Homo sapiens: one gene and its partners. The protein of the gene in region 3 purifies or fractionates together with the protein of the main gene of each other region. This does not show direct contact. Each region holds a gene or a part of one and is shown on either strand. Other genes may lie near its edges. The genes, in order: DUSP14, LYG2, NSMAF and PREP.

Region 1 (7,028 bases), on a different chromosome or scaffold from region 3:
CTTTCTGTAAGTAGCACTGAAACACCTTCTTAGGCAGATCCACACCCCCCCGCGTGTGTGGCAGACGCTGGCTGGTGGTGTGGAGCGCCGCGAGGCAGGTGATGAGAACACAGCCACGATTTAGTCACCGCAGAGAAGCAGTGTGTGGACTTGAGCTAGAAATCCGGACACCTTCCATCTTTTCCTAGTTTCACTTCTCAAGTTGAAATCTCTCACCCTTTCTGAACCATGTATTTTCCAATCTGTCAAGGGGGTCAGGAGTGTTTGTCAGAGAAGCATCTATAGCATCTGTGCCCTCTACGTGCCCTCTGGCGGAAGTTGTTTTCCTGAAACTTTGGACCAGCTTTGGCATTTTAAGCAGGTTTGTTGGCAAAGAGATGGACTGGCAGCAGCAGGGAGGGAGCAATGTGTCTGTCTCACTTGGATTCTGCCCCGAGGGCTCACAATCTGTTTTCCCTGCAGCACCAAGTACCCTAGCGCCACTCAGCAAATGCGAGTTAACGGAATCAGCCCGGCTTCTACAGGGAACCTGGGCTCCTTTGCCTCAGGAAGGCAAGTGGCTTCCCAGACAGCGTAATTTGGGAGGATGCATCGCTCTGCCACCCAGGCTGGAGTGCAATGGCGCGATCTCAGCTCACTGCAGCCTCTTCCTCCCGGGTTCAAGCGATTCTCTTGGCTCAGCCTCCCTACTAGCTGGGATTATAGGCATGCACCACTGCACCTGGCTAATTTTTGTATTTTTAGTAGAGACGGGGTTTCACCATGTTGCCCAGGCTGGTCTCAGGTGATCTGCCCGCCTCGGCCTCCCAAAGTGCTGGGATTATAGGCGTAAGCCACCGTGTCTATGGCCAAGCCTCTCTGAATTAGACAACAACTAGATAACCTACTTGGAAATTTGATTAGCATCTTCCAGATTTTCCACAATGAGGAGCGTCATCCCCAGCAGCTTGAAGGCCTAATTTTGTGTTTATTACCACAGTGACTTTGCTTTTTAAACCAGTAGGATTCTGCCAGGGAAGACTTGGAAGTGGCAGGAGACCCTGCTCTGCTGTAGGAAAGGATGTTCTCAGAGTTTCTGCCCTGTTCATAGTTTACATCCAATGCACACACACGCAGTTTCCTTATGTGACTGCGTCCTTGTTCCTCCTCATGCTGTGATTTCACCTGTGGACTGCTCTGTGTACTCCCATAGCATTAACCAGTCATGGGATGTGGGCTCCCAAAGCGAGGCCTAGCCTCGAGTGAGGAGGCAGCTCCCTTCAGAGAAGGGCAGTGTCCAGGAGGGACTTGTGGTCTGTTAGCACCAGTACACCTGGTGCCTCAGTCTTCCAGGGGGAATGCAGACAGAGCCACAGCACTCACCTCTGCAGCAGTTCTCAGACGTGCCCCCGACCCGCAGCCTCACCTCAGAAAGGCAACTCTTCCAGCCCCACTCTGGAGGGACGGAATCAGAAGCTGGGGAAAGGTCCAGCAGTCTGTGCGCACAGCCCTCTGGGGGATTCTGAGGCATGCTCAGGTTTGAGAGCCCCTGCATTATAATGATAGAAATAGTTGTAAATGGAGCCAGGCACAGTGGCTCATGCCTGTAATCCCAGCACCTTGGGAGGCCAAGGTGGGTGGATCACTTGAGGTCAGGAGTTTGAGACCAGCCTGGCCAATGTGGCAAAACTCCGTCTCTACTTAAAGTACAAAAAATAGCAACGTGTGGTGGTGCACGCCTGTAATCCCAGCTACTCAGGAGGCTGAGGCAGGAGAATCTCTTGAACCTGGGAGGTGGAGGTTGCAGTGAGCTGAGATTGCGCCACTGCACTCCAGCCTGGGTGACAGAGCCAGACTCCATCTCAATATATATATATATATATGTATGTATAAATAAATATATATGTATATTTATAAACTTTTTTTTTCAAAAACCATTTTAAAATGTTAAACATACGTGTCATAGGACCCAGCCCTTCACTCCTGGGTATTGAACTGAGAGAGGAAGGCATATGTACGCACAAAGACCTGTACGTGGATGCTCATAGCAGCTGTACTCACAATACCTTTAAACTAGAGACAACCCAGGTTCATCAGTAGGTGAATGGATAAACAGAGTGTGGTGTATCTACACAGCAGAGTACTTAAGAAGTGAGCTGTTGATAACCCAGCGTCATGGGTGAATGTCTAAGTTATGCAGAGTGAAAGAAGCCAGACCAAAAAAAAAAAAAACCCATATATATATATATATATATATATACACACACACACACACACACACACACACACACACACACACTCTATATATATATGTACTATGTATATGTGTACTATATATGTATATATACACTATATATACACACTATATACACACTATATATATATATATATATATATATATATATATATATATATATATATATATATAGTGTGTGTGTGTGTGTGTGTGTGTGTGTTTAGTTTTTGAGACAGAGTCTTGCTCTGTTGCCCAGGCTGGAGTGCAGTGGTGCAATTTCGGCTCCACTGCAACCTCCACCTCCTCCTGGGTTCTAGTGATTCTCCTGCCTCAGCCACCCAAGTAGCTGGGATTACAGGTGTGTGCCATCATGCCCGGATAATTTTGGTATTTTTAGTAGAGACCTGGGTTTCTCCACATTGGCAAGGCTGGTCTCGAACTCCTGGCCTCAAGTGATCCACCCGCCTCGGCCTCCCAAAGTGTTGGGATTACAGGCGTGATCCACCACGCTTGGCCTATATATATTTATATGCTATAAATATATAAAAGTCCATTGATAGAAAAGTCTAGAGTGCAAACCATAGTGATAAGAAAGATCAGTGGTTGCCTGGGAATGGGGTAAAGAGCAAGAAAGGGTTGGATTATTAAAAAAAATGAGGAAATTTTGAGGGGGATGATGGATGTGTTTATTATTATGATGTACTGGTGTCTCCATTGTGTACATATGTCAGAACTCATCAGGTAATGTACCTGATCAAGTTGTATAGCAGTTTATATGTCAAGAACACCTCAACAGAGCTGTAAAAAAAACACGACAGGTCTGACAGTTACCTGGGAAAGGTGGGGGAACAGGTGGTAGAAGAACACATTTTTTATGATGTTCATGGTACTTACATAACATAAATGAATAAAATAGGGCCAACATGGAAAAGAAAACAAAATGAAGGAAAATGTCAAATTGCCATCCTGAACACCAGCACCGCCTGTAATTAGCGTTCCTGGCTGCAGCCACATCTGCGGTCCTGCTCCTCATGAAGCCGTCCTCCGTGCCATGTCCCGGCCATGCCTGTCCTTAGCTTCCTGGTGCACACTGTCCTCCACCTTGTGTTCAGGCACAGGGCTGCTTGGCTCACCCTTGCTGCACCTGGCCTGTCCGTCCTCCCACCGCGGTGCCGCCCAGGCCTTCCCACTGCAGGGCTGGCTAACGGTGCATGGAAGAGACTCGAGTCCGTGTTGTGTCCTCATAGCCCACCGAGGAGGCAGCAGTGCCGGACATTTCGCGGATAGGTTGTGGTCTCTGAGTCTCCTCCTCTCAAGAGGATGAGATTTGTCTGTGTTATTGTCAAAACTCTTATTTGTCACGCCGCGGGTTATGTGTCAGTAACAAAAAGCTGAGATTTAGGCCGGTGTTTCTTACTGGTGCAGCCTTTAAATGCACACCTGCGAATGTTCAGTGCACCTTCCGCTTCCTGGCTCTATTTCAGTCAAACCTGAGGTCGTAGTGAAAGTCGGTGAGGAATTCTTTGGAACTTCCTGATTGGCTGTGTCCTTGCCTCCTTGTCTTCCCGCAGATTTGATTTGTATCCACTGTCACCAGCACTGCTCACTTAGGACTTTCTGGATCCGGACCCAGGCAGCGCACACTGGACTCTTGAGGAAGTGAGTACCCCACCACTGCCTGCCTGTTGAACCCGGGGAGGCTCTTGTCTGACTGAAATCACTGCAGGCTTCCCGACGATCCCCTGGGTGTGTGTGGGCAGGCGCACTTGCCACTGGGCACAGGTGATAAAGCATTGTGATTTTTTTTTTTGGTGAGAGGAACGGATGTATCTAAGATCTCAGGAAACTGAGAACTTCCTTTTCTGCTCTTATTAAATGTCAATATATATATAATATATATCAATATATATGTAAATGTATATATTGACATTTAATAGCAAACACTGGAATAATGAGAGGATAGTGACGTTCAGACGTTAAAAGCCAGTGGGCTTCATCGTGGAGCTCAGAATTAAGGTGAAGTTATTTAGCCACACCCAAGGTCAGGTCAGGTAAAATGCTCATTTAACTTACAGGAATGAACTTTGAAGACCATGGCCTTCAAATTGCCTGGGATTATTTCCATGGAAATGCTACTGTGTTTACATTGTCACGAAATGATAGGAAATAGTTTTTGGTTTGGGTTTTTGTTTTTGTTTTGAGACAGAGTCTGTCACCCAGGCTGGAGTATAGTGGCACGATCTCAGCTAGTTGCAACCTCCGCCTCCCAGGTTCAAGCGTGTCTCTTGCCTCAGCCTCCCGAGTAGCTGGGATTACAGGTGCTCGCCACCATGCTCAGCTAATTTTTGTATTTTTAGTAGAGACAGGGTTTCCCAATGTTGGCCAGGCTGGTCTCGAACTCCTGACCTCAGGTGATCCACCCGCCTCAGCCTCCCAAAGTACTGGGATTACAGGCATGAGCTACCTCACCTGGCCTTTCCTTTTTTTTTTTTTTTTTTAGAAGCTGGGTCTCCCTGTTGCCCAGGTTGCAGTGTGGTGGTGGTGCAATCACAGCTCACTGCAGCCTCGACCTCCCAGGCTCAAGTGATCTGCCCACCTCAGTCTCCTGAGTAGCTGGGACTACAGGCATGCACTACCACACCCAGCTAATTAAAAAAAAATAAAAAATAAAAAATAAAAAGTTTTTTTGTAGAGATGGGGTCTCACTGTGTTGCCCAGGCTGGTCTTCTGGTCTTGAACTCCTGGGCTTAAGCAATCCTCCCACCTCAGCCTCCCAAAGTGCTGGGATTACATGTATGAGCCACCATGCCCAGCCACCCCCCCCCCACCCCACTTTTTTTTTTTTTTTTTTGGACAATCACCAGAGAGCTGAATTTTACATTGATTTCACATGTTTGTGTCTTAGGTGACTTTTCCCAACTGTTAATTGATAGAAAATGATTTGTCTGTATCCTTGAAAGATTGTACTGTATTATTTAAAAAAAAACCCTCTAATCTTCCCATTTGACAAATGTGACAGAAGGCTGTGATGAATCAGTAGCATTTAAAGTACTGACACATACCTGTATTTTGCAGGAAGGAGACTCTAATTTTGGATTCCTTGGTGGAGGAAAATAAAACACTCTGGTCTTGCCGCCAACGATGCAAGTGTGACTGCTGGCGTCTTCATGAGCTCCAGAGGTCACAGCACGCTACCAAGGACTCTCATGGCCCCTCGGATGATTTCCGAGGGAGACATAGGAGGCATTGCTCAAATCACCTCCTCTCTATTCCTGGGCAGAGGCAGTGTGGCCTCCAATCGGCACCTCCTCCAGGCTCGTGGCATCACCTGCATTGTTAATGCTACCATTGAGATCCCTAATTTCAACTGGCCCCAATTTGAGTATGTTAAAGTGCCTCTGGCTGACATGCCGCATGCCCCCATTGGACTGTACTTTGACACCGTGGCTGACAAGATCCACAGTGTGAGCAGGAAGCACGGGGCCACCTTGGTGCACTGTGCTGCAGGGGTGAGCCGCTCAGCCACGCTGTGTATCGCGTACCTGATGAAATTCCACAACGTGTGCCTGCTGGAGGCGTACAACTGGGTGAAAGCCCGGCGACCTGTCATCAGGCCCAACGTAGGCTTCTGGAGGCAACTGATAGACTACGAGCGCCAGCTCTTTGGGAAGTCGACAGTTAAAATGGTACAGACACCTTATGGCATAGTTCCCGACGTCTATGAGAAGGAGTCCCGACACCTGATGCCTTACTGGGGGATTTAGTGCCACTGAAGCCTGCGTCAGCAGCCCGAGCGGGGCCGGCATCTGCTCCCCGCCGTCTGCTCCCTCTCCACTCTCTTCTCAAATGGCTGACTTCTGGTTCTCCCTCAAGTGTTTTTTACACTGGGTGTTCAAATTTATTTTAAGAGATAGGGAGGGAGGGGACATAAAGGGAATGCATACATTGCTAGTCACATTTTTAAAATTAACATTTTGGAATAGTGTTTATGGAAATCTTTAGCTTTTAATCATTTTTACCAATTTGAACAGTTTAATAAACTGGTTCTGCTCTCTTCTGAATCTCATGCCTTTGGCACCTTGGTAGGTGCAGGAGGAGCTCAGTGCAAAAATCACTTTGGGGCCTCATTAACCCTTTAGAGACAAGCTTTGCCCCAGGCTGCGGACCAGACAGATGCTTAGGGAAGGTTGATAACCAGCTTCAGTCTCTACTGGATTAGCCCTACTCTTTCCTTTCCCCTCCATTATTTAGTGACTCTGTAAGTAAGTTAAATACACCCTTATTATTTAGCTGTTAAGTAACTATAATGAAATCTGCTGCAAAATCTCTCTTGGAATCCATGTGCCCAGGATTATATTAGCATTATTTTTAATAAATCTATATGCTTAACATATTAGAATTTTTACTAATAATTTCAAGGTGTGTGTGTGTCGATGATGGGAAAAAGGTGCTCTCCAGTAACTAACTAACTAACTGCTGAAATGTGGCTCCTGTGCCAGTTGGGAACATTACTTAAAATACACATCCCAGCAGAGTCTTGTCGGCGCGTCACATCCTGGTGGACAGGCAGACACACCGTCCCCGGTGCTGGGCCGGTGGGAGATGATTGATAGTGCACGCTCTGATCAGGGGTGCTGGTTTTGGTTTCCTCTTGGTTAGTGGAGCGCCCCGAAGCAGCGTGTCCTCCATCAGAGAAACTGGTTTTCAATAAAAGGTGCCTCTGCTTGACTATTATTACCACATACGAAAATGCCCTAAACCAAACCTCAGTATGAGCGATAAGCAAGTAACAAAAACAAACAATGGCTGCCTT
Region 2 (7,028 bases), on a different chromosome or scaffold from region 3:
TCTTCTACTTCAGAAGAAAACCATTTTTAAAAATTTGCTAAGTTAGCCACAGCCTCTGATCACTGCTAATGACTTGGGACAACCATTCTAAGACATCCTTTTGATCTCTGACTGCAGAAACAAACAGATCCACAACCCCCAACAGGTGTCGCTTCTGCTCTGTTTCTCCTTCAAATTGCTCATGCCTGTAATCCCAGCACTTTGGGAGGCCGAGGTGGACAGATCACTTGAGGTCAGGAGCTCAAGACTAGCCTGGCCAACATGGTGAAACCCCATCTCTACTAAAAATACAAAAATTAGCTGGACTTGGTGGCAGGCACCTGTAACCCCAGCTACTCAGGAGACTGAGGCAGGAGAATCGCTTGAACCTGGGAGGTGGAGATTGTAGTGAGCCGAGATCATGCCATCGCACTCCAGCCTGGGTGACAAAGCAAGACTCTGTCATACACACAAAAAAAATTCTGCCACACTAGTGCACTGGGAAGCCTGTTGTACTAGGAGTTAGCCAATGCATGTTTTAGCCTGGCTCCGCCACTAGTTGGTTCTGTTCTATTGGGAAGTATTCCCCTCCTTGCTGAGTCTTTGGGCTCTGATTTGTAAATTTGAGGGGTTGGGGTCTGATGTGACCTTGTGGTTGCTGCCAGCTCCGACACTCTAAAACCAGGATAACGTGATGAAGACGACTTTGGAACAGTATTGCTTCAAATGGTCATGTGTAACATGAAGCAAACACAGCAGCACCACCCAAAAAACAAAGCCAGAGTCTAATATTTATTCAAGCAGTAGTTTCAATACATGGAAATAAACACAGCTGGACAAAGTTTGGAAAGAATGGGGGTGGAAAATGAAAAGAAGCTGGTTGTTAGATTGGTCAGGATTGTGGTTTTTGCTCATTTTTAATTTTGATACTATTGTCATAATGATGATTATACCTTTTCAAAATTAAGTGACTTCCTAAGAAAGAATCTGAAAACGATGAAAGGGGGAAGCCAGTCATTTGCTCTGCTTTTCACTTACCGCAGTTCATCACACTGTTTGCATCACAAGTGGCCCCAGAGGTCTTCATGGTCATGATGTCCCCATAGCAGCCGTGGTACAGGCGTGGATGTAGGTGAGGCTTCATTGAGTGACTGAAGGGGTATGAGCCCCTGGAAGTGCCTAGGAGGCAGAAGTGTAACTCACATGAATCCTCTGAGAAGATATTACTTGGGTTGCTGCAATAAACATCACTAAACCAAAGGCAGAAGGCCACAGACAGAACTCCCCAACTCTCTTGTTGCCATTATTTGTTCCTCAGACAGAAGTTCCCCATGCCCACTCTGCTCCGATCTTTTGTTTTGTTTTGTATTAACACAGGACGTAATCTGAAAACTCTATGCAAAATATTATGAAATTCATCTCTTATAGATCCTAAATACATGTGCAGTCTTTTTTTTTCCTTTTTTTAAGAGACAAGGTCTTGCTCTGTTGTCCAGGCTGGAGTGCAGTGGCATGATCATAGCTCGCTGCAGGCACCAACACCTGGGCTCAAACTATCCTCCCACCCCAGCCTCCTGAGTAGCTGGAACCACAGGTGCATATCACCAGGACTGGCTTATTTTCTCTTTTTGTAGAGATGGGGTTTTGCTATGTTGCCCAAGCTAGTCTCAAACTCCTGTGCTCAAGCGATCCTCTCTCCTTGGCCTCCCAAAGTGCTGGGATTACAGGCACTGTAGTCATACCATGCTCTATGTCAGAATTAAAACTGACAGGTTTTTAAGCAGGAAACTTGAGAGTTTTTTTTTTTTTTTTAAGATTCAGGGGGTACATGTGCAGGTTTGTTACGTGGGCATATTGTGTGATGCTGAGGATTGGCCTTCTATTGATCCTTCACCCAAATAGTGAACACAGTACCTGATGTGTAGTTTTCAACCCTTGCCTCCCTACCTTCCTCCCTCCCTCCTTCCTTTTACAGTCCCCAGTGTCTATTGTTTTGAGAGGAATTTTAAAACATTTCTGACACAAATGCCTCTGGAGATGTGAACATCTAGATTAACAATTTGCCTTTCTTAAGCCAAAATTGACAAATGGGGTCTAATTAAACTAAAGAGCTTCTGCACAGCAAAAGAAACTACCATCAGAGTGAACAGGCAACCTACAAAATGGGAGAAAATTTTCGCAACCTACTCATCTGACAAAGGGCTAATATCCAGAATCTACAATGAACTCAAACAAATTTACAAGAAAAAAACAAACAACCCCATCAAAAAGTGGGCGAAGTACATGAACAGACACTTCTCAAAAGAAGACATTTATGCAGCCAAAAAACACATGAAAAAATGCTCACCATCACTGGCTATCAGAAAAATGCAAATCAAAACCACAATGAGATACCATCTCACACCAGTTAGAATGGCAATCATTAAAAAGTCAGGCAACAACAGGTGCTGGAGAGGATGTGGAGAAATAGGAACACTTTTACACTGTTGGTGGGACTGTAAACTAGTTCAACCATTGTGGAAGTCAGTGTGGCGATTCCTCAGGGATCTAGAACTAGAAATACCATTTGACCCTGCCATCCCATTACTGGGTATATACCCAAAGGACTATAAATCATGCTGCTATAAAGACACATGCACACGTATGTTTATTGCGGCACTATTCACAATAGCAAAAACTTGGAACCAACCCAAATGTCCAACAATGATAGACTGGATTAAGAAAATGTGGCACATATACACCATGGAATACTATGCAGCCATAAAAAATGATGACTTCATGTCCTTTGTAGGGACATGGATGAAATTGGAAATCATCATTCTCAGTAAACTATCACCAAGGACAAAAAACCAAACACCACATGTTCTCACTCATAGGTGGGAATTGAACAATGAGAACACATGGACACAGGAAGGGGAACATCACACTCTGGGGACTGTTGTGGGGTGGAGGGAGGGGGGAGGGATAGCATTAGGAGATATACCTAATGCTAAATGACGAGTTAATGGGTGCAGCACACCAGCATGGCACATGTATACATATGTAACTAACCTGCACATTGTGCACATGTACCCTAAAACTTAAAGTATAATAATAATAAAATAAAATAAAATAAAATAAAAATAAATAAATAAAATTCAAAAAAAACCAATTTGCCTTTGTTTAGAAAGATAAGAAAGAAGGGCACCATAACAATTTAAATATATTCTTATTATATATCATTTACTGTGAAGTTGAGTTCCTATGTATATTTAATAAAATTAGAAGTAAAAATTGAATTTGCCAAAATAATTTAAGTCAAATCTATTCTTGTCTTTTTGTTCTGTCATTAAAAAGTGAATTTCTGTCCAAGTCTACCTGTTACAGGAGAGGCAGAGCTTTTGCTAAAGGAGATACAAAGTTATTTTCTGTAATGTTGAAAAGTTTGTTCTAACGGTTTCAAGGACTGTTAACTTGTACCTTAAGAGTCCAAATATTTGTTATAAGACAGTACTTAGGGCTGGATGTTGTGGCTTATGCCTAGAATCCCAGCACTTTGAGAGGCTGAGGCAGGACGATTGCTTGAGCGTAGGAGTTTGAGACCAGCCTATGCAACATGGCAAAACTCATTTCTACAAAAAATACAAAAATTAGCCTGGTGTAGTGGCACATGCCTGTAGTCCCAGTTGCATGGGAGACTGAGACAGGAAGATTGATTGAACCCGGGAGGTCGAGGCTGCAGTGAGCTTTGATGGTGCCACTGCACTCCAGCCTGGGCAACAGAACAAGACCCTGTCTCAAATCTCAAAAAAAAAAAAAAGGATTTTGTTAAAATGTTTGATGTAAAAAAAATAGAATCTGGTTGGGCGTGGTGGCTCACACCTGTAATCCCAGCACTTTGGGAGGCCAAGGCAGGCGGATCACCTGAGGTCGGGAGTTCAAGACCAGTCTGACCAACACGGAGAAACCCATCTCTACTAAAAATACAAAATTAGCCAGGCATGGTGGTGCATGCCTGTAATCCCAGCTACTCGGGAGGCTGAGGCAGAAGAATCGCTTGAACCCAGGAGGAGGAGGATGCAGTGAGCCGAGATCGCGCCATTGCACTCCAGCCTGGGCAAAAAGAGCGAAACTCTGTCTCAAAAAAAAAAAAAAAAAAAAAAAAGAATCTAACCACTTCTCCCACCTCTGCTTCTGCCATAGTCCCAGCCAGCATCATTGCTCATCTGGACTCTCCTAACAGCCTTCTAACTGACCTCCCTGATTCACTCTTGCAGCCCATCCTCTACTTAGTAGACGGAGTGGCCCTGTGGGAATATGCATGGGCTGCTATCAGTCTTCTCTCTTAACCTTCCAGTGGCTTTCTCCTCCTTTAGGGGAATAGCCAAGTCCATCCTGCAGCCTCCAAGACCTACTAGATGTGGCCCTCTGCTCCTGTTCCTACTTCTCTTTCCCTTTGTTCACTCTCCTCCAGCCACATTCTTCTTTGTGCTTATCCTTCAACATGCCAGGCAGGTTTCTGCCTCAAAGCCTGTATGTTTGTGGTCCCTTTTGCCTAGAATGCTATTCCTCCTGGTATCTACATGATCATGCCTTCAGGTCTCTGTCCAAATATCACCTTATCAGCAGAATATATAGCGAGTTTATAGACAAAAAAAGAAAATAGTCCTTAAACATATAAAAGACGTTAAACCACACTCAAAAGAAGAGAAAGGCCACATTAAAACATCATTATAACAGCATTTTCCAACTCTTTTTTTTTTTTTTTTTTTGAGACAGAGTCTTGCTCTGTCGCCCAGGCTGCAGTACAGTGGTGCGATCATGGCTCACTGCAAGCTCCGCCTCCTGGGTTCATGCCATTCTCCTGCCTCAGCCTCCCCAGCAGCTGGGACTACAGGCGCCTGCCATCACACCCGGCTAATTTTTTGTATTTTTAGTAGAGGCGGGGTTTCAGCATGTTAGCCAGGATGGTCTCGATCTGCTGACCTTGTGATCCGCCCACCTTGGCCTCCCAAAGTGCTGGGATTACAGGCGTGAGCCACCACGCCTGGCTGCATTTTCCAACTCTTTAGTTGGCAAGAGCCCAAAGGTTTGGCAATACCCTCTGTGGGAGAGGTTGTGAGGAAATAGGCTGTCACACACATTGCTGTGGAACACAGTTTTGTGATAGGCTGTTCATTCCAGCACTGTTGATAAGAGCAAAGGACTGCAAACAACACAAATGTCATTAATTTAGGGACTGGTTGAGTAAGTGATGCTACGTCCACAGTGGAGCACTATGCAGCTGCAAAAGGAAAGAATAAGACCTGTATATACTCCTGTAAAATTCTCTCCAGGGACAAAATAGTATTTATAGAATTGTACTCTTTGTGTAAGAAAGGTAAGAAAATACAATCGTATATTTTGTGTGATTTGCTCATATTTTCAAAAGAAACAATACAAGGATGAATGAAAAACTGATAAAAATTGTTAGTTATGGAGAGAGTAAGAGGAAGGTAAAGGGAACAGGGATAGGGGATAGACTAACTATCTTTTTTAAAGTTTTTATTTTGGAACCATGTAAATGTTATCATAAATTTTAAAATTAAATCAAATGGGGAAAAATGGAATCATAAAAAAGAAGAACAAATGAACATAACTCTATAACAAATTGAAAGATTAATAAACACATAGAGGAGAATTATCTTAAGTGACTTTAAAATATATCCATATAAGTCTATACCACTACATAGGAATCCATCCTGTGAACATAAATAATCACAAGAAAATCTTAAATTATATTTACTGTCTCATTGTTGGTTGGTAATACTGTCATACTTATTTTGACACTATTGTATGTAAATAAGTAATAATGCTAATGTCATTAGAACTAGGATTTTTAGTGTAAGATAGCAGAGGTACAAATATAAAACTGATGTAAAATGCTTGCATTCTTAAATATAAATGTGAAATATCTGAATGCATAGTTGTTTTCCTTTTAAAAATATATATTTTCTAGTTCCTGCCACTGAAAACACCTGAAATAAACGACAGCTCCATAGCAATGGAGCACTTTTACTTCCCACACTGTGGTCTCTAAATACCATTTCCTGCTAAGTGGAACCAGCGCTCCTCAGAATAATGGCTGATTGCCTGCCTGGGGCAGGAAATGTTCAAGATGAACCAGGAACATCTTTTTGTGCCAGAGCTGGTCCTTATATGTTAGAGACACATTAAAAAAAAAAATTTTTTTTTCCAGATGGAGTCTCACTCTGTCGCCCAGGCTGGAGTGCAGTGGCCATTCTCCTGCCTCAGCCTCCCAAGTAGCTGGGACTACAGGTGCCTGCCACCACACCTGGCTAATTTTTTGTATTTTTAGTAGAGATGGTGTATCACTGTGTTAGCCAGGATGGTCTCAATCTCCTGACCTCTTGATCCGCCTGCCTCGGCCTCCCAAAGTGCAGGGATTACAGGTGTGAGCCACCGTGCCCAGCCCAAAAATTTTTACAGGTGAAATGTTTTTATCTCACTGCAAGCTCCGCCTCCCAAGTTCATGCCATTCTCCTGCCTCAGCCTCCCAAGTAGCTGGGACTACAGGTGCCTGCCACCACACCTGGCTAATTTTTTGTATTTTTAGTAGAGATGGTGTATCACTGTGTTAGCCAGGATGGTCTCAATCTCCTGACCTCTTGATCCGCCTGCCTCGGCCTCCCAAAGTGCAGGGATTACAGGTGTGAGCCACCGTGCCCAGCCCAAAAATTTTTACAGGTGAAATGTTTTTATCTCCCTCCCTTCCTCTCACTCTTTCCCTCTCTCTTCCCTTTTTCCTCTCACTCTCTTACTGTTCGTTCCTCTCACTAGAAGATAAATTTCATTAGGTCAGATACTAGATGTTTTTCTCTGCTATATCCTCCTCAGCACCTGGAACAATGCTTGGCACAAAGTAGACATTTAATAAACATTTGCTGAATGGAAGAATGGATAGTTGGATGGATGAAGGAATGAGACAGAAAGGGATTGTTTAAATTATCTGGATCAAGTGTCCTTATATTGACAGGTTCAGTATCCTTTCACTGGGAGGCAGTCTTTGC
Region 3 (7,028 bases):
TCTTTCTACTTTTAAAGAAACCTGTGGTCCAGATAACACTCCAAGATGTCCGCCGCATCTACAAAAGGAGGCACGGCCTCATGCCTCTGGTGAGTCCTTGGGAGGCTGTGCTGGGGCATGATTGTCACACTTTCAGTTTAGCCAGCAGTTTATTGACGGTAAACACTTATGGGATGTCTGAAAGTACAAGTACACTGTCCTGTAAGAAAATAGACTCTGATTTTGCTGTTCTTTCTTTTGGAGAAGGTAGAAATTCATAAAGGAATAACTCTTTCATGTAGAGAAGAGGTTCTATTATGAAGTATTTTTGGCTCCAAGAGCAAGAGGGCTAGAGTGCCCTTGAGTTTCTCATTCGTGCATTCTCAGTTTCTGGGCTCAGGCTAGAATGATCTGTGTAAAACCAACCCTGTGCTGTACTTGCCTCCACCATTCATAGCAGCTAGGTCTCAAAGCAAAATCTGGAAGATGTTACAAAATTACTTCTTTAGTGGAACTAGTATATTCACAGTTAACTTACATTAATTCAACCTTTGGGCTGAATGACAAAATAACCATGTAAAATCATATAGGCAGTTCCTTCCACCATTCCCTGAATAAGTGTATTTCTATACTTAGGTCCTATTTCCGACACATGTCTTACTTTAGTAACCAATCCCTACAGAAGGTATGATTCCAAGTGTTTTAATTCGACACCAATAGAAATTCATTTTTTCTCCTTTGAAGATTAACCAGTAACTTGGTGACATTACAAAAGCATTGTGGAATTTTAATTCTTATTTTTGTGCTTTTAATTTGTGAAATTCTACTGTTTTGCTTCCTATTTTACTTAAAAGGCCATTCCTCCATTTCCAGCACTAATAGCAGATCAGGGAAACAGATACTATTAAAAATCTCCTCTTTTGGGTATAGAGCTGCAGTCAGAAAAAGAGAAGAAATTAACATTGATTAAGTGCTTTCTATGTAACAGGCAATTTATATATAATGTTTCATTTATTCGCCATTATAAGCCTTGTGAAGTAGATAGTATTGTATTTTACAGGTGAAGAAATTGAGACTCCGGGGGTTAACTTCCTAAGCTCCCAGCTAGTACATGGTGAAAGCCTGTATTTGAACCAAGGGTAGCTCTGGGCTTTCATCCTGGCTTTGTCTGTTCCTTTGCTAGCTCAGCCTTACTAACACTATGGTCACAAAGCTCATAGGTTTTTATAAGATAATAATAATGTATTAATTGAATGGGTTATTCAATTATCAATTTGTTAGGTGTGCATAATTTTTATTTATTAGCTGGGCATGGTGCGCCTGTAGCCTTAGCTACTCGAGAGGCTGAGGTGGGAGGATCAATTGAGCCTGGGAGTTTGAGGCTGCAGTGAGCGGTGATCACACCATTGCACTCTAGCCTGGGCAACAGAGCAGGACCTGGTCTCAAAATATATATATGTTATTTAACTTATGAAAGAAAGCTAGACATTTATGTTTGAAGAAGAGATGTGAAGACATGGATCAGCTATTTTTGAATTTCAAAATAACAAGTTCACAAAAGCTATTATTAATGAAAATATTCAACACTCAAGGTGATTTACAAAGTTTAGCTGAGATACTATCTTGTTCTCAAAACATTTATAAATACAACATATATATATATACGCAAACGTATATGTGTATATATATCACTGAGTTAAATTTATAGATTGAAAATAGGAATATAAGTTATAAAAATAAACACAAATGTTTAACTGAATGTTTTTGTAATTATATACTTATATTGGGATTGCAAGATGAATACAATGCTATTTATTTTATTATTTTCTTTTTGAATTTATAGGGCTTGGAAGTATTTTGCACAGAAGATGATCTGTGTTCCGACATCTACCTAAAGTTCTATGAACCTCAAGATAGAGATGATCTCTATTTTTACATTGCCACATACCTAGGTTTGGCGCTCACCCTTCATTGTTTCTTTCTTTTTTTTTTTTTTTTGGAGGCTGAGTCTCGCTCTGTCACCCAGGCTGGAGTGCAGTGGCGTGATCTCGGCTCACTGCAACCTCCGCCTCCTGGGTTCAAGTGATTCTTGTGCCTCAGCCTCCCGAGTAGCTGGGACTACAGGTGCCCGCTACCACGCCAGGCTAATTTTTTTTGTATTTTTAGTAGAGACAGGGTTTCTTTTCATATGAAGGTAGTTCAACTCCTAAGGATCTGGGATAGGAAATAAGAGAAGAAAAATGCTATTTGTAGAATCGCCTCTTTGTGGGTCTAATTTCTTCTCATCAGTAACTATAATTGCCAAAATAATATTTTTAAAATTCTGGGAAATATAAATTCACTTTGATAATAGTTCATTCTGAATGTATGTTTTAAAAACTCTAGATAAATATATTTAAATGCTCTTATATTTTAACGTCCTCCAAATTGAATGGATTTTGAAGAATCCACTCAAATATTTTTATGTTCAGTCAGGTCTTATATTAGTTTATGAGAACCAAGACTCAGTTTTGTACTGCGAGGCAGTGAGTTATTCATATGTTTGTGATCATTGATTGTGGTCAGAACCACAAAGCTGAAAGACTGCAAAAGGAACATGTGAACCTTCTATGCTCAATATACTGACTTTGGAGTGGAATTTGCTTTTAATTAATGATATTTCCTCAGTTTTCCATGGAAAATGTGAATTTTCCCACCTTTGCCAGAGAAAATACTTATATTATGATGTTCAAGCCCAAAGTTTTTTTATTACATTGCAAGGCTAAATTAAATTATTCTAGTTTACAAAGTTGCTAGATAACTGGAAAGGAATTATCTTTAAAAATGGATTTTGGGGCTAGGCATGGTGGCTCATGACTGTAATCCCAGCACTTTCGGAGGCCGAGGAGGGAGAATCTCTTGAGCCCAGGAGTTCGAGACCAGCCTGGGCAACATGGCTTGACCTCATCTCTACAAAAACAATTAAAAATTAGCTGGGACTGGTGGCGTGTGCCTGTAGTCCCAGCTACTCGAGAGGCTGAAGTGGGAGGATCGCTTGAGCCTGGGAGGTCAAGGCTGCAGTGGGCAGTGATCACACCACTGCAATTCAGCCTGGGTGACAGAGTGAGACCCTGTCTCAAAAAAACAAACAAACAAAAAAGGATATTGGGATTTTATTAATATCATCTTAATGTGTTTGTTATTTTAGTGTACCACAAAACTATTTGTGAAATTTGTAGTAAAGTACATCTTCCCTTAGAAATGAAATTTTACTTCAAGGAGGAATACTTGGCTTTCAGTAGGGAACATATTTTATTTTAAAGTAGGTTTATATATATATATTATATATATCTATGTAGTTATATATAGTTTATATATAGTTATATATAGCTAGTATTTTATTCATACATTAAGCTATTGAAGGTAACTTTATGTATAAGTATAGCTTTGTTACAAGTTTACTTTAATTTCCTGTCTCATGATCTAGGTTTTTAAATTTTATTTTTTTTAACTATAACAAGATTACAATAAAAAGATCAACTTTCATGGTGAGTCCTAAAATCTCAAGCCAAAAACTTTGCCATGATCTAAAATATCCATTTTCTAAGAAACTGTCAGTTCTCACTGAGTTTATTCCTAAGATTGTTCATACTTTTTCTGAGGGGTTTCAAAAGTAGAAAACGAGGGGGAAGTGTGTTTTGATTTTTGAAGCCCTTTCCTAGTAGCTGATTAAAGAAGAAACTTGGTAAAAGTAGATGAGAATAAATATTAAGAGTTAAGATGCTTAATGCATCAGGAAAGGTTGAAAGCAGAATTTTCTGAACAAAATGGAAAATCCACTTGTAGGACAGTTAATTCATTTTACACTCTGAAAGGGAAGTTCTCATTGCTGCATTTATCTAAGATCTCATTTTTCCTGAGGTATTTCAGGGGGCAGGTCTGGTTCTTTTAGTTTGAGAATTGGTCCTCCTGCCAAACGCCTGTTTTCTTCTTTAACAATTTCTTTTCTTTTCCTTAGTCTTCACATGCATAAATAATATGTAGTCATTGACAAATTAGCAGTAGTACATCTCTTCCAAGCCTAAAAGAAAACTAAAAGATTGCTTTAATTTCATAAATAATAAAAGAAATAAGCTTTCCCAGATGGCCATGGGTTTTTAAATGCATGGAGACAGCACATTTGGAGGGATTCTTTGTTACTGTATAAATATTACCTATTAACATGTAATATTTATATATTTGCGCTACACTTTTGTATTTGTTTAGGTTATGTCATATTGTGGAGGGTAGTGTAATAGCTCAGTGTATTTAATAATTTCCCCTCCTTGATCTTGGAACTGTTTATACATAGCTGAACAAATACTTTATGAAAACAAGTCAGCAGCCTACTTTTCTTTTTCTTACAATGCATTTTTCAAGAATGCACAGGGATGGTCTACACGTTAAGCCCCTAGCTTTTGCATACTAAGTTTGCGAAGTTAAGTGGCAGACCTCGTGGGTCCTCTTCCCCCAGAGCACCATGTGGCGGAGCACACTGCTGAGAGCTACATGCTGCAGTGGCAGCGTGGACACCTTTCCAACTATCAGTACCTCCTTCACCTCAACAACCTGGCCGACCGCAGCTGCAACGACCTCTCCCAGTACCCTGTGTTTCCATGGATAATACATGATTATTCCAGCTCAGAACTAGGTAACTGCCACACGTGGAATTCTGACCAAGTTGAGTGGGGAGTAGTCATCTGTATTGTTTTTAAAGGACAGAATAAATTCTATTTTATAATTGTGATGTGACATGTGAACAAATTACAACTCATTTCAGTTGTATTGCTAAGGACTGCCAATTTCCATTCCAGGATACTATATAAGTGTTACGTAAGTGTTTCATGTATGTTTTTTCCACCATACTTCTTGAAGGACACACACAGAAAAAATGGGCATGATTTTAACCCAGGGTTATCATTATTACCTATAAGTACCACGTTTTGAAATATTTGCTTCTCACTTTGAAAATTTCACTCACCTTATATTATTTTTAAAAATCACATTAAAAACTGTGATTATTTGTTATAGAACACTTGGAAAGTCCTGAAATAATCAAAGAAGAAAATTAAAATCATCCATAATTATATTACAGAGATAACCACTTTACCTTTGGGGTATATCTACTCTTCTCTTGCTACCACAGATTATTTTAAGAAAAATGTAATTGTATTGTAACTTTATTTTGTAATATTTAAAAATTATATATTGTGAACAGTTAGTTCCTCTTGACACATTATCTTGAACCTTTGTCCTTGAAAGAGATAATAGATTTTCTAGAAATATGATAAAGTATTTCTCTGAAAATATTTAGCTCACTAGTTCTCAAATAGGCTAATATTGAAGAATAATAATATTCACTAGAATTCGAATGTAGAAAGTAAATCTTGGTAGAAGAATAATGGCTTTTAAAATTTTGTTGTTGTTGTTGTTTTACTTGGAATATATATATGTTCCTTAATCAGAAACTTTTTTAAAAAAATTAATGTTCAGGGCATTGTCAAATTAGAGATATTGCTCTTAAGTGGTTGTGTCTAACTTAAAACTCAAAATTGCTAACCTTTTCTTTACATCTACATAAATAACTAACAAAAATAACTCTCATGGATTGCTCTCAATTTTTAAAAAAACTTTTGTGGAAGTAAATGTGTATATTTGAATTAATTCAGGAGGTTAATGGTACTAAGTATAAGCTGAAGTTATTTATTGATTTATGTTTATAGATTTGTCAAATCCAGGAACCTTCCGGGATCTCAGTAAGCCAGTAGGGGCCCTAAATAAGGAACGGCTGGAGAGACTACTGGTATGTGGACTTAGAGATTCTTGGTTTCTAAGCAACACGAGAAGCCATGGCCTGTGTTTTTATGGAAGGAAATTCGTTTCTCCAAGGCTTAGGGGAATTATACCAGTGACTCTACGTAGAGTTTTTTCTTACTTTTCTCCTGACCGTGAATTAGCTGCTCACCATTTGCATTTCTTGTCTGCAGTTTAGGAAGGAGGAGGGCAACCTGTTTACAGGTTCACTGAATTATTTTCATGAAGGCATTCTGTGGTAAATCGCATAAGAGACACATAAAATCAGTTCTATTTAATCTAGTGCCAACATTTTGTTACCATTAAGCCAGGGAAACCAAAATACTTGTCTCAGGAATGCTGTTTAGCCACAGATTTTCTTTCCCTCTTATCTTCTCCTTTTCTTATCTAACAGAGAAATTAAGGAATATGGTATATCTATGTTATGATTTCTTTTAGGCTTTTTCTACTTGTCAGTTATTATTTCATAGCCAACACTTAGCTCTATTTTTTTTTTTTTTCTGTATTCTAGACACGCTACCAGGAAATGCCTGAACCAAAGTTCATGTATGGGAGTCACTACTCTTCCCCGGGTTATGTACTTTTTTATCTTGTTAGGATTGGTAAGATTCTTTATCATTACCCCCAATTAAATTTTATTTCACTGTATTCTTCAATGATTCTGTGACCTGACTTACCTCTGACTTTTTCCCCTCTAGCACCAGAGTATATGCTGTGCCTGCAGAATGGAAGATTTGATAATGCAGATAGAATGTTCAACAGGTTTGATACAAATGCCTTGCTTATCATTTTTAACACTTTCTGATTGTATATATACAACATACTTGTTTCAAAGCACTGGATATAATAAAAAAGTAAAGAAATGTAAAAAATCACTAATTGTTCTATCTATTCCTCTCAGGCTTTTTCTAGACATGTATATGTGTGTGTAAATGTGAGAACATATTTTATGTACAGCTTTTTGTCCTACCTTTTGTAGCCTAATATTAAATCTTAAAGTTTTTCCCATATTATTAGATATTCTTCAAAACAATGATTCTTTTTTAAAATTATTGTATCACATTCTAACATATGCCATATTTTATGTCAACTTCTTTTCTCCATTGTTGGGCATTTAGATTGTTTCCCACACTTTATTATTCTTGATAATTTTGCTGTGAATTGAATACAGCTCCCTGTGTGTATTTAGATGGCTTTACTTTTTAAATTATAAAAGT
Region 4 (7,028 bases), on a different chromosome or scaffold from region 3:
GCTCCTGGGATTAACTCTGGAATTGTCCTGGAGAGAATGTTTCTTGTCCTAGTTAAAAATATCTGATCAATAACTTCCATCTGCTGTAGATGATGGTGCCCGGTCTGGGCAGATAGGGCTGCTTGGTGTAAAATTCTAGATATGCCTGAATTTAGTAACATAATCCAGGAACATTTTTTAAGTGTCTATTCTGGCCCCTCTGATGAGTGTTTGGGGAAAAGGGTGGGCTGACTGCTTTAGTCCCAGGTCTGGTTCTGAACTTGATATGGTTCTGGGCATGTTACCCAGCCTTATCCCTGCTGTTGCTCCTAGAAGTGCATGATTGAAAGATGCTTTACAATTCAAAATTTTCTGATTTCTTAATGCTAGGAAAAGCAGATTGTTATTTTAAGCCTATTTTATAACCACTTCAAGGTGTGTAAAACGTAAAAGACTTGCAGATGAGAAGAAAAGATGAAAAGCTGTTGTTCGGTGGTGACAATCTGCTAAAATTTAGAGAGGTCAGAATTGAAAATTGGTAACTTTATGAAGACCCATCTGGAGAGGCTTTAGTCGGGTTTTATGTTCCTTGCTCTTGTTTTTACGTCCCTTGCTCAGTCAGTTGTTTAATGAAAATATATACAGAGTGTTCTGGCTTACCTGCCCATTTATCCAGTTGTGCATTTCCCCAGGAGTTCTTTGACCTGGCATCAGACAAGGACAGATGTGGAAAGCCCGGTGTTGTAAGGGCCAAGGAGATTGTTCTCACCCAGCCAGAGCCACACTGGAACTAGAGCAGCACTAGGTTTTCTTTAGGAAATAGCCCTTACCTTCTGGCATTGTAGAACAAAGCAAGGAGACAGATTAAAAAATTCATCTGAGATAGAGGTAGTCTTCCCAACAGCTTTATACAAGAAGCCTTAACTAGAATGTTGGAGTGGTTCAGAGACTTGATTGGCAAGACATTGTCAGTGTGGTTTCATTAATGGGGTTAATCTTTTTTTTTTTCTGAGATGAAGTCTTGCTCTGTTGCCCGGGCTGGAGTGCAATAGGCGTTGTCTCAGCTCACTGCAACCTCTGCCTCCTGGGTTCAGGAGACTCCCCTGCCTTAGCCTCCCGAGTAGCTGGGATTACAGCACCTGCCACCATGCCCGGCTAATTTTTAAATTTTGAGTAGAGACAGGATTTCAGCATGTTGGCCAGGCTGGTCTTGAACTCCTGACCTCAAGTGATCCGCCTGCCTCAGTCTCCCAAAGTGCTGGGATTATGGCTGTGAGCCACTGCACTCTGTCCTAATGGGGTTAATCTTGATGGTATCAGGTGGAGAGATTTTGTAATGATTTTTACTGCTGGATAATTTCTTTTGGCATAATCACTTGAGGAGTGGTGAAAACTGTTTCTACTTGCTCCTTCAAACGCCTTCAAGTGGCTTCTAAGGCCAGGCCTTAGAAGCTCCAGAAAGCTTCCTTCAGCCAGGTTCTACTTACACTAAGCAGTTTTATTTCTTCCAATATCATGGTAACCTGAATGGGTGATGCTTTTGCACCTTCTTTTTGTAAACAGTGGAAAAAAGCATTTCATAACAGTAAATAAAAAGGAAGAAAGGCATTAGTTTTAAAATGTTTTGCCATTGCATTTAAGTCAGCTTTTTGAACTTATGTCAATTAGAATCATTATACTACATATTAGTAACTTGCTTTTTGGCAGTTTAGACATAAAAGCAAACCTGGGCTATATTGCAGGGAGATTTTCTAATCATTGGGAAGCTCAGCGGAACAGGAGAATGAGCACGTGTGTGTTAGCCCCCTCCCTGACGTGCCCTTCTTGTGTGCCCACTGTATTGTCCACTGTATTGTGTCATTCTGTGCTTGGCTGCTGACAGCACGTTTTCAAGTTTCTTTAGCACAGTGGCAGGTCTTTGTTTTGTGTTGTAGGGACAGAGCGGTTTCCTGTTCTGACCTTTCATCTTTCTTTCCTCTCTAGCTGAAACATTCTTTTCATGAAGGGTGGCTTGACACCTTTGAGAACCTGCCAACTTTGGTTCATGTGGTAATTTGGGCAGACACGTTGCCAGTGAGCCAATTAGCATTTTTGTCCATCCCTTTCCTATTTCTCCATTACATTAAAAAAATACCAGTTTTAATTGGGGTTAGAGAGTAATTATCTAATACCTCATTTTGTTTTTTACAGGTACAGGATTATCATGGTCATAAAATTTGTGACCCTTACGCCTGGCTTGAAGACCCCGACAGTGAACAGACTAAGGTAATTTGGTTTCTAATTAAAGATAAGGCAGCCTTAGTAGCTAGCACCAAACTCTAAATGTCAGTAACTATAGCTTTTCCTTTCTGGTGTTCTCCTGTGTTTTCTGCCATGGGATGGTGAGTATACCTGTTGTTACCACTACTTTTTGTCAAATAATTTATGGGAAAAAGACAAAAGCATGGCTTAGTCCCAGAGAAGATCACCTAAGTGTTTCAGATAATGTTTATGGTTCATAGTGACACTGATGAGCTATTTTAAATGAAAATATCAGAAAGAAAACTGATTTTTGCCAAAAGAAAAAATGAAAACCTAGATAGAAATGATGTTAAAGGAAAAAATTGCCTAAATATTTTTTTCCAAAGAAAAGGAAATCTTGTATATGAAATGAATATTAGGTCATGAAAACTGAACACTGTCCTTAAATTGCTTATTGATGTCAACACAACAACAGTGAAACAAAAGCTAAGTAGTGAAGGGGCAGGGGGGAGCATTTTCTGCCCTAAAAACATAAAGCTTTCATATTCTTTTGGAGAAACAGTATTTCAAGGATCCTGCTGAAGTCCATTCAGTAATGAAGGTGGCCCTAAGTCCTATGTCCCACAGACATTTTTCCCTTTTTGGAGTGCCTAGGACTTGTCACTTATGTATACTTTTTTTTTTTTTTTTTGTAGACAGAGTCTTACTCTGTCACCCAGGCTGTAGGGCACTGGTGCGATCTTGGCTCACTGCAACCTCCGCCTCCTGGGTTCAAGCAATTCTTGTACCTCAGCCTCCCGAGTAGCTGGGATTACAGGCATGTGCCACCACACCCGGCTAGTTTTTGTATTTTTAGTAGAGACGGGGGTTTCACCATGTTGGCCAGGCTGGTCTCGAACTCCTGGCCTCAAGTGATCCTCCCGCCTCGGCCTCCCAAAGTGTTGGGATTACAAGTGTGCACCATCGCGCCCAGCCCATTTATGTGTACTTTATGTAGTTAATTAAGTTTGCTTGGTTGGGGGAATAGTGTTTCTCAAGTTCATCTTAAGTTCTTGGATTCTTCTATTTATAACCATAGTACATAATACTTAGTACATATTTGCAGTTTCTGATATGTTCAGCATCCCAAAATTTATTCGAGCTTCTTTAGAGTTGCAGGGTACGTTTCCCATTTAAAAAAAAAAAAGGTTAAATGGCACTCTAGGTAGTTTTTCAGGCCAGTCTTCAAACGCCTGTGTCTTAACTCCGCCTGTTTCTTGCAGTCCCTTTCCACCGTATATACCAGTGTTCTCTGGAGACCTGAATTCAGATTTGCCAGGAAAGCATCCCTTCCTGATGTAGAATTGCCCATCTCCCCACTGGGACAAGGAAAGGGATGGAGTGAAGAGCTTAGCCAGAGCATGATGGTATATGGAGAAAAGAGAGAAAGTAGAGGCAGGGGAGTAAACCACATGATCATCTCTTTCTTCTTCCTTTAGTCTCAAGCACTGGCTCACCTGCTTTCTGCTATCCTCACCTGTTCTTTGTGAGTAGTGTCTCTCCTTTGCCCACTGCAAAGCTCTTACAACTTCTTTTTATCCTTTGTCCCTAAAGTAAGCACACTGCTATTTTGAGATTTCCTAATGGTTTTTACTTTTATCTGCAATCCTACATTCTTTCTCTAACTCCCTTCAAGAAAGACAAAGATCTCATGGATGAGAATGGTTGATATTTGGGGTTTAATTTTTCTTTCCAGAAGCACTGGGTTATAGTAGTGGATGGGCAGAAATTCCAAAGTGAGAAACACCTGAGTATCTTTAGGAATGGTGAAGGCTGTAGCTCTGCAGGTAAGTCTGAGGGGACAGAGAACAGGTGTGGGGTTACCTCCCCACTTCATCCCTGCCATAGATTACCTTGATTGTTCAACACTGGGCTGACTGAGACAGAGGGATTGGGTCTGGGAGTGGAGAGTCACATGCACCTGCATAACCTGTACTGGCTAGAAAGCACCAGGGAAAGGATGAAGTTCCTGTGCATCTCTTGGAAAACTGTCTCTAAGGACCTGATGATTTCTTCACCTGAAGTATCGGCTATAACCTGGATTTCTACAGCCTTTGATGGTGATTGAGTGATTTAGCACTGTCAAAATGACCCAGGTTTTATCTGTTAGTGAATGTATACTTTGCTGTTCCTTAGTTGATAATGACAGGTTCGTGGATGACAAGCCACTTATTAGTGGATATCAGGCTTCCAATTAGTGGATGAAACTGCTAATTAATGATCTTATAGTCAGCACTTGATAGAAACTAAGACATTGGAGTATACACTATTTTTGTGGTATACATTTCTTGGATGGTTACCATGTGCCAGGCACTTTACCGGGAGTTCTGCATTCCCTGTTTCATTTAATTCTCAAATTCTGAAATATATCTTTTTATTTCCCCCATTTTACAGATGAAGAAATTGAGGTGCTGAGTGATTAAATATGTTGTCCATGGCTACTCAGCTAGTAAGTGTGTAGTCAAGGGTAACCCAGGTAGACGAGGTGGTTATCAATTACACATTAAAAAATAAGTAAAAGTAAAAAGACTGGGTGTAATACTTTGCAGATGCGAGCTAAAGGAATGTATTCATGTCTGTGCTTGCCATGTGCCTTTGTAGGCCCTCAGGTGTGAACCCTGGGCCAGCCCCCACTCCCATGCTGACCTGTTCTTTTTTAAAATATATATATTTTTTAAATTGTAATAATTCAGAGTACTGTGATCTTACATCCTTCTCTGACTTCATATTCTACCATGGCAATTTTTCATGTTAGAAAGCAATCTTTGCAGCCCAGAATTTTAATAGTGATACTATTTCATCAGGCAGATGCACTATATTATGCCTAATGACTTCTGTTGGAAATGATTGTTTTCAACTTTTCACTATTACAAATAATGTCCCAAATGTCCCAAACAAGCACTTTTCTAGATCTCCACATTTCTGACAATGACATGATTACTTGTTGCAGTAGCCTTGAAATCTCTTCTCCATTCTCAGGTATTTGCTTTTTGTCGTTGCTATCAAATGGGTTCCTTTTTCATTATTGATGGCATATACAAGTGTTACTGACTCTTTTGTTAGAGACAGGGTCTTGCTGTTGCCCAGGCTGGAGTACAGCCATCTTCTGGGCTCCAGCCATCTTCCTGCCTTAGCCTCCCAAGTAGCTGGGACTACAGGCGCACACCACCATGCCTGGCTAAACTAGCTACTGCTACCGATTTTATATTTATTTTGTACCTAGTTCCCTTACTGAACTCACCAAATTTTCAGTTATTTCCCTTAGATTTTTAGATACATAATCATATAACATATAATCAAATTTAGTGATAATTCTATTTTCTCTTCTATCAAACTTTGGTTATTTTATATATTTTGTACCTAGTAATTTTTTTGAACTCACAGATTTGAATAAGTTTTCAGCTATTTCCCTTAGGTTTTCTAGATACATAATCATATCATCTACAATCAATTATTATTTTCTCCTCTACCAAATTTCGGTTCAGGTCTTATTGAATTGGTCAAAGCTCTGCAAAACATGTAAGAATAGTAGTGAGAAAGAACTTTCTAGCCTAGTGTTTAAATTGTTATTTTGAATGATATTTGTCATCTTGTTTAAGCATTGTTATTCCTACTTTTAGTTTTGGATTTTGATTTCTTTTTAATACCAATCAGGGTAATTATATAGCTTCACTAATATATTAATATTAAAATGTCCTTGAATTCCTGTGATAAAATTCCATTTTTAATCTGTTTTTATGTTCCTTACAACTATATTTACAAGAAAAGTTGGTCAATATCTTGTTATCCAATATAATAACCACTAGCCACTTGTAGCTCCTGAGGACCTGAAATGTGGCTAGTCTGAATTGATTACATGTTGTAAGCATAAAATACATGCTGGATTTCAAACACTTAGTTTGAAAAAAAAAAAAGTAAAATACCTTAATATTTTATATGGATTACATAAAACCAGTCAGGACATTAGAAACATCTGTAGCTCTCTTATAAGATCTGAAATAGAGTTTCGATTTAATCTAGTATTTAATACAGGTTGGCCAATCCTGCCACTGCCTAGCATTTAAGGCTATATCCTTTATAAAACAAAATCAGAGAAGACTTGTAATGGAAAATTCTCAAAAACAGAGTTGAAATGATTTGTGTGTAGTGGATTAAATAAAATATATTATTGAAATTAATTTTTTTTTCCTTAATGTGGCTACTAGAAATTTTTAAATTGTATATGTAGCTTGCATAATGTATCTACTGGACAGCGCTGCTCCTCTGTTTCTTTACAAAATATCTCTGTTAACATATTTCATATCAGCGTTAGATTTGCTTCAGAGAATCAACTGAATTGTGTGTTGCCTTGTACAGTCTGAAGCATTTGCTATAAAATAGCAATATGGGCCTTGACAGCTAGAAAAGATTCATCCAGATTCAACTCTCCCTCTACCCCCTGCCCCGCCCCTGTTTTTGAGAATTTTCTGTTACAAGTCTGCTCTGGTTTTGTTTTATAAAGGATATAGCCTTAAACGCCAGGCACTGTCAGAATTAGCCAACCTAAATTAAATACTAGATTAAATCCAAGACCTACTGGTAGCATTTCAGATCTTATAAAAGAGCTACAGATGTTTCTCACTTCTTGAATGGTTTTTATTGGAAATGTAATAAGCAGCTTTTTGTTTTAGAAGCTCTGTAAAGATTCTCCTCTTTACAGCAAGGTATGGCTAATACACCTTTGTGTATATGCTAATAATGTGAATAGAAAATGTTCATGCTGCTTTTCT

The links.
Region 1: the proteins of NSMAF (region 3) and DUSP14 purify together in Homo sapiens (affinity purification with mass spectrometry; 2 studies listed by BioGRID and IntAct, with this or other methods). This does not show direct contact.
Region 2: the proteins of NSMAF (region 3) and LYG2 purify together in Homo sapiens (affinity purification with mass spectrometry; 2 studies listed by BioGRID and IntAct, with this or other methods). This does not show direct contact.
Region 4: the proteins of NSMAF (region 3) and PREP purify together in Homo sapiens (affinity purification with mass spectrometry; 2 studies listed by BioGRID and IntAct, with this or other methods). This does not show direct contact.

The regions. Positions count from the first base shown.
Region 1 is NC_000017.11:37,506,891-37,513,918, forward strand, and holds the end of DUSP14 (dual specificity protein phosphatase 14), read left to right. Parts: intron 1-3,786; 5' UTR 3,787-3,874; intron 3,875-5,290; 5' UTR 5,291-5,382; coding exon 5,383-5,979; 3' UTR 5,980-6,608; downstream 6,609-7,028. UniProt on the Homo sapiens protein: Involved in the inactivation of MAP kinases. Dephosphorylates ERK, JNK and p38 MAP-kinases. Plays a negative role in TCR signaling by dephosphorylating MAP3K7 adapter TAB1 leading to its inactivation.
Region 2 is NC_000002.12:99,245,663-99,252,690, forward strand, and holds part of LYG2 (lysozyme g-like protein 2 precursor), read right to left. Parts: intron 1,159-7,028; coding exon 1,018-1,158; intron 1-1,017. UniProt on the Homo sapiens protein: May act as a potent antibacterial protein that may play a role in the innate immunity.
Region 3 is NC_000008.11:58,600,830-58,607,857, reverse strand, and holds part of NSMAF (protein FAN), read left to right. Parts: intron 1-17; coding exon 18-89; intron 90-1,822; coding exon 1,823-1,931; intron 1,932-4,447; coding exon of another isoform or gene 4,448-4,471; coding exon 4,472-4,648; intron 4,649-5,720; coding exon 5,721-5,800; intron 5,801-6,322; coding exon 6,323-6,413; intron 6,414-6,509; coding exon 6,510-6,573; intron 6,574-7,028. UniProt on the Homo sapiens protein: Couples the p55 TNF-receptor (TNF-R55 / TNFR1) to neutral sphingomyelinase (N-SMASE). Specifically binds to the N-smase activation domain of TNF-R55. May regulate ceramide production by N-SMASE.
Region 4 is NC_000006.12:105,393,069-105,400,096, reverse strand, and holds part of PREP (prolyl endopeptidase), read left to right. Parts: intron 1-2,169; coding exon 2,170-2,244; intron 2,245-7,028. UniProt on the Homo sapiens protein: Cleaves peptide bonds on the C-terminal side of prolyl residues within peptides that are up to approximately 30 amino acids long.